2 separate regions of the Homo sapiens genome follow, and region 2 is linked to region 1. Evidence: fine-mapped expression QTL. Tissue or cell type: nucleus accumbens. Region 1 holds a variant in brackets; the other region holds the start of a gene. All regions are shown on one strand. Distances are from middle to middle.

Region 1 (2,680 bases):
TGCTGGCCTCACTCCACTCTCAGGTTCCTAGAACCAATGCCACTCTTCTAGGTCCTGCAGAATCCATGGGCAGGGATGCACGGGTTGTTTCTGAGCAAGCAGCATCTGCGAGGGCCTACCTGAAGGACTCTGGGAGGGACACAAGGGCTTTCCCAGAGGGTAGGTCCCTCCATGTGCCCTGCAGCAGCCACGGTACCTTTTCTACCATATGGGAGTCAGTGGGCTGATGGGCTGGTGATAAGAAACAGGGAGGGGGCGTAATGGTCACAAAAGGAAGGAAACACAAGAGGCCGAAGGAGTCCTCACTAGTGTAAGGGGTGTGGGAGAAGGCAGAGGTCCCTGAAAACAGGGGGATGGATTCATAAACTCTCCTCAAATCCAAGAGAAGCACAGCAAGCCAGGGATCATGGGCTCAGAGGTCAGCCAGGCAGAAGATTCTAGAGTCAGCTCTTGTTCTTGTCTTGAGACCACCAGAGAAATTCAAGGCCGGTGGGTGTGTGGCAGAACCAGAACTGGAACCCATGTCTTCTGCCCCTGAGACCTGCACTCTGTGCCTCCCAGAGCTGCTGTTCCTCCAGTCGGGCTGAAGAACGAAGGCTCAGGTGGCCTGGAAGAAAGTGTTTCATGGTGCCCATGTGAGAAGGCCTGGGCGTCCTACCCTGCTATCTACATCTGTAAAGAAGGGCCAGGCCTCTGACCTCAAGGCGTGCTGTCCTGCAGGCTCTGGGCAGGCACAAGGTCCTCCTCTCACCAGTGGGGCAAGGATGAGACATGCTTATGTGGGATCAGGAACACAGCTATTCAGATCCAATTGGGAGGAGGGTGAGTGCTCCCTTGGGGCTCCTGTGGGAGGAAGGAGCTGCTTCCTCTAAGAGGAGGAGCTTGAATCTGCACCAGAGGCTTGGACCAAAGAACTGACCTACCCATGTGAGCATGCCCCTAGCTGTGCCTCCTGGTGACCCTGCCGAAGTGTCAGCCTGTTAGCCCAGCTCCCAGACCCTGGGCCGAGCAACCTCTGGTCATGGCCGGTGGTGCTGAGCTTGGGGACAGGGCCACACATTTTGGCTCTCTACATACTCTGGATTCTATACAATCACGCTGGCCACACATGACAGACACAAGGCACAACACATCCATTAGGACAGCAAGTCCATGTCACACTGCACAAATTACATATGTCCCACGGCACAGTGGATGCACAGACAGACCAGCGGAGCTGAGGGGCAGGCGCCTCTGTGTCTCTGTGCTTCTTGGCTCCAGCTGGCAGAACGAGGGCTGTGCACTCTGCTTGCCCATTTTCCCAGCATTCCCCCAGAGCCCCATGCATCCATCAGAAGTGAAATCAAGAAGAAATCTGCTTTCAGCATCCTGGGCAGGCCTGCTGGTGCTGCTTGGTCACTCTGGGCATTGGCTGAACTTTCATGGGTATAAATTGTCTATCAAGAGATTATTCACAACCAAACTTAAGGACCCACTAGGCTCACCTCCTGAGCACACACAGATAAAATACAATAAATACAACTGATCCCCTAATGTCTGCCAGGGCCCCTGGTCAGTGGCCGAGCAGCCGCGGCTGCAGGGGAGAGTGGAGC[A/G]ATGATGCGCCTGGGGACACACAGCGGGGGAGATGGCTTCTGGTGGGGGGCCTGCGGCAGGGCAAGCAGGGCGAGGGTGGGCCTCATTCACATGGGCATCGACATCACAGTATGGGTGGCACTGTACAGCAGGAGCCTCACTCTGGCCGCAGCTACTCAGAAAACGGTGGAAACATGCCCAGGTCGGCAAAGTCTTCGATGTTATAGTTGCCAGTCCCCTGGGTTGGATCTCCTGGCATGGGCAGCATGTCCTGCAGAGGAGAGGAAAAGAGAGCCACAGGGGAGTCAGCTCCTCTGTCCGTGCACTGGGCATGTCCCAGGAGCCCAGTCTGCACTCACCCTCATGGCCATCCCTAAAGGGGCAGCCCAGAGGTCCTCCCCAGCCTTCTGCGGGATGCTCTGCAAGGGTCCTCAAATGTCTGAGACCCGGGGAAACTGTTCTCCCCAGGGAGCTGTTGTGACAGCAGGTAAACGGCATTAGGACATGCCCTTTGTCTATCTAAGGTTGAGTCAGGGACCCAGGGTAGACGAGAACCCCACTGGCGGGGAGACCCCAGGCTGGCCCCAAGCAAGGTGCACCTAACAGATAGCAGATGGCCAAAATATAAGAGAAATGCAACGCAGAGTGGAGTGGAAGGAAGATGTATGTGGAGACCTGGCTGGCCTGTCTTCCATGTTTATCTTAGCGCAGGGACGAATCCCTGAATGGTTAGATTTCAGTTTCAACATGTCTTTCCAGTCCTCTGGGCCTCAGATGACCCATCCAGAAAACGGGAATAGCACTATTTTAGTTTCTTACAGCCAATTCCCCAACATGTGTTCTGTTGAATTCTCAGCCCATGTGATACTCTGTGAGAAAAGAATTCTGTGGACAAATAAGTTTGGGAAACAAGGCACACTTTGCCTACCTCCTAGAAATCCAGTCCTTATTGGTGTAATAAAAGCTCTGATACGTCCTGCAATAAAGAAACTCAATAACTTTGTTTAACCAGTTTTTCGTAAGCTTATTTGGCCAAGAATTCTTTTTAGCATCGTGACCATGAAGATCCATGTCAGGAAATTCTGCCTTACAGGGTTGCTGTGGGGCC
Region 2 (2,680 bases), 190 kb after region 1:
TGCCCACAGCAGCCTCTGCACAACACCCAAAAGTTTGTACTAGCTTAGATGTTCACGTTTCTCTTCTCCCACACCCTGCTCATCAGGTAGGGAACTTTCCCAGTGAAAACGGAACTTCCCTACTACAATACCAAAACAAGTCAATGTTGCCACTTGATCAAGAACTCTTCCATTTTTGAAATATTTCCTAATGAGCTCAGTTGTCACAGACTGCACCCTGGGGACAGGTCAGACCAGAAAGCAGAGGATGTCACCTGGGCAGGACCAGGGCTGCTCCACGCTGGTGACCACAGGCTGGGTGTTTTGTGCCCCCGGAGGGTTAGGACACACAGCAGCCAGTCGCAAAGGGCGCAAAGGACCAGCGCTTAGTGGGCGGGGCGGGCAGGGGAGAGTCCCGGGAGTTGTACCCTGTTGAATCCCAGCTCCAAACTTTTCCCTCCGTCAGCGCGGAGCCCTCCACCAGCCAGGACTGGCTGACGCCGTGATGCCACAAAAGCCGGGACCGGAAGAGAAAAATGCGTGGGATGGGGAAGGCAAAGGCGGTTATTTTCAGAACTTCGGGGGCTCCCGGGCCTGCCCTTCGGGTTCCCGAGGATGCGAGGCCAGCGTCCGGCCGCCCGCGGGTCCGGACCGGCGCCTGCCCGGGACCGGATGGGCAGCGATTGGGATGCAGATGCCGCTCTGGTGCTGATGCTGCGGCTGCCGCGTAGTGACAGCCGCTCCACCACCCACCGCGCCGAGCTGCGGCTCCGCGCCCCCGGGGGCGCCCGGCGCGCCTGGTCCGCTCCGGCCCCGGGCAAGGCCTGCGGGCTGCGGCGGGCGGCGGGGCCCAGGCCGCTACTCACCCGGAGGGTTGACCGCCGCCGGGGTTGCCATCTTGCTCGGAGAGGATAGGCGCCCGCTTGGCAGGGGCGCGGGAGGGGCGGCGCGGAGCCCGGCGCTCAGCCCCGGGGACCCGGTCAGGCCCAGGCGCCGCCGCCGCCACACAAAGGACGGCGCGGGCGGGCGGCGCTCCCTCCGCTCTCCCCGCCGCCGCGGCCGCTCGCCGTCCCCGCCTTTCTCTCCTCCTCCTCCCCCTCCTCGGCCTCCTCCTCCCGGTTCAGCCTTTGTCGCGCGGCGGGGGGCGCCCGGCCCGCGGCTCCCCGGTCAGAGCGGTAGCACCGCGAGACTTGGGGCTGCGGACGGCGGGACCCCCAAGTTGGGCGCCGGCGACTGGCGGGGGCAGAGGGCCGGGCGCTCCCTCGGGCTCGCGCAGGTGCTCGGGCCTGGCCGGGCTGGGACCGCAGGCGCCTCTCCCGCGCTCGCCTAGCCCGGGCTGCCCCCGCACGCCCACGCCCCAGGTGTCCGGGCGCGCTTTACCCAGGGGCGCCGTGCCCAGGCCAGGAGGCCAGGGCGGAGCGGGTGAGGGAGAAGCCCATTTAGATTCAGAGGGAAGCCGGTCCTGGGAGACGGCCGCGAGGAACAAAGGCGCCCCAGTGCTGCCCACTTAGCATGCCAGAGCCGCGCTGCTCGGCTCCCAGGCCGGGGACACGGCCCGGTGTTAAGCGGAGGGTGCCCGACCGCGGGAATTCCTAAGGCCACGCGCACCTCCAAGGCCACCGCCGCACACAGCTTCGGAGTGCACAGTGCACACGCCCAGGCACAGGCAGCCGGCCCGAGAAATTGTGAATGTCTTGGCTTTGAGTAAGGCGCTCATCTCTACCCTCCTTCCATAATGACTGCCGTTGATTATTACTTGAGGGCGCTGCAAGGGCCTTATTTACACCACCAAGTTGAGAATTTAAAAAGATTTTTTTTTTTAAATAGGTTTATCTGCGTATCCTGGCGAAGTTTGGATGCAGAGAACTTGGAGCTGTTGTTTTCTACCAGACACTAGGATCCCTGAGAGAGGTAATGGCCCCTAGGAAGGACACGTCACCATCGGGGTCCCCTGTAAAGGTTAAATGGAAGAATAAAGACATCCCAGGTGAACGCTGAGAAGGGCAAGTTGGTCCCTAAACGCAGATAATGTTTGCAGAGACATCAAACTGTCTTAAATCCTTCCAAGGAAGCATTTTCTGGAGGGCAGAAAATTTGGGATGTATGTTCAAATAAGCATTTTCTTCGGGGAGTATTTGTCACTACTAATCTAATAGTCTATCAGTTCTACAAATGTTGAATGTCTGCTGTGTGCCAGGCACAAAGCCAGGTGTTGGGCCTACCATGGAAAGGAAGAAACAGGAGCTCTGTTCTTCTGGTTTGGGGGGTAGAGTGGGGAAGAGTGAAACAAAGTATCTGCACTCAAGAAGCACACAGCTCCCTTGGGGGCTTAGGGCAGAAGCCCTGAAATTGGCATCTCCAGCCTGTAGTCACTAATGAATGAATGAGGGCAGAGAGGAGGTGGAGTGATCAGGGAAAATGAAAATTAGGCTTTGAAGACATGAGTAGGACAGGTGGAAAAAGAAGACATTTCAAGTAAAAAATAAAGCAGGTGTGCACCCAGCCACAAGATAGGCCAGGCCCAGACAGAGAAACCAGGGTATCAGCTATGGCCCGCTCTTGTGCCCCGTATCAAAGTTGACTGTTCCTGATTCCAACATCAAGCCAAATGAGAATTCAGCCTCTCTTCTACATACCCCGAAAAGCAACACACTCAAAATACCAACTTAATTAATGTATAACGTATACTGGACTGAAGATT

Direction of the effects. Alleles are on the strand shown, and positions count from the first base shown. SD is a standard deviation of normalised expression in the study named.
As copies of A replace G in region 1, the expression in nucleus accumbens of the gene that starts at base 1,010 in region 2 goes up (small effect, 0.23 SD a copy in GTEx).

Evidence for each region. PIP is the estimated chance that this variant, and not a neighbour inherited with it, causes the effect.
Region 2: it holds the start of ARNT2, and the variant in region 1 is fine-mapped to the expression of ARNT2 in nucleus accumbens (GTEx, PIP 0.99).

The regions. Positions count from the first base shown.
Region 1 is chr15:80,592,763-80,595,442 of GRCh38, reverse strand. It overlaps ARNT2 (aryl hydrocarbon receptor nuclear translocator 2), which reads right to left. Exons shown (of 19, transcript NM_014862.4): 19 at 1-1,843. The coding sequence ends at 1,745. Among named protein-coding and RNA genes, the nearest start is that of ARNT2-AS1, 9.5 kb to the right of the region's middle. The variant A/G (reference allele first, on the strand shown) is at 1,593.
Region 2 is chr15:80,402,712-80,405,391 of GRCh38, reverse strand. It overlaps ARNT2 (aryl hydrocarbon receptor nuclear translocator 2), which reads right to left and starts at 1,010. Exons shown (of 19, transcript NM_014862.4): 1 at 846-1,010. The coding sequence starts at 876. ARNT2-DT (ARNT2 divergent transcript) reads left to right here and starts at 1,196. Exons shown (of 6, transcript NR_184070.1): 1 at 1,196-1,401; 2 at 1,807-1,890. RefSeq lists an enhancer at 1,079-1,579.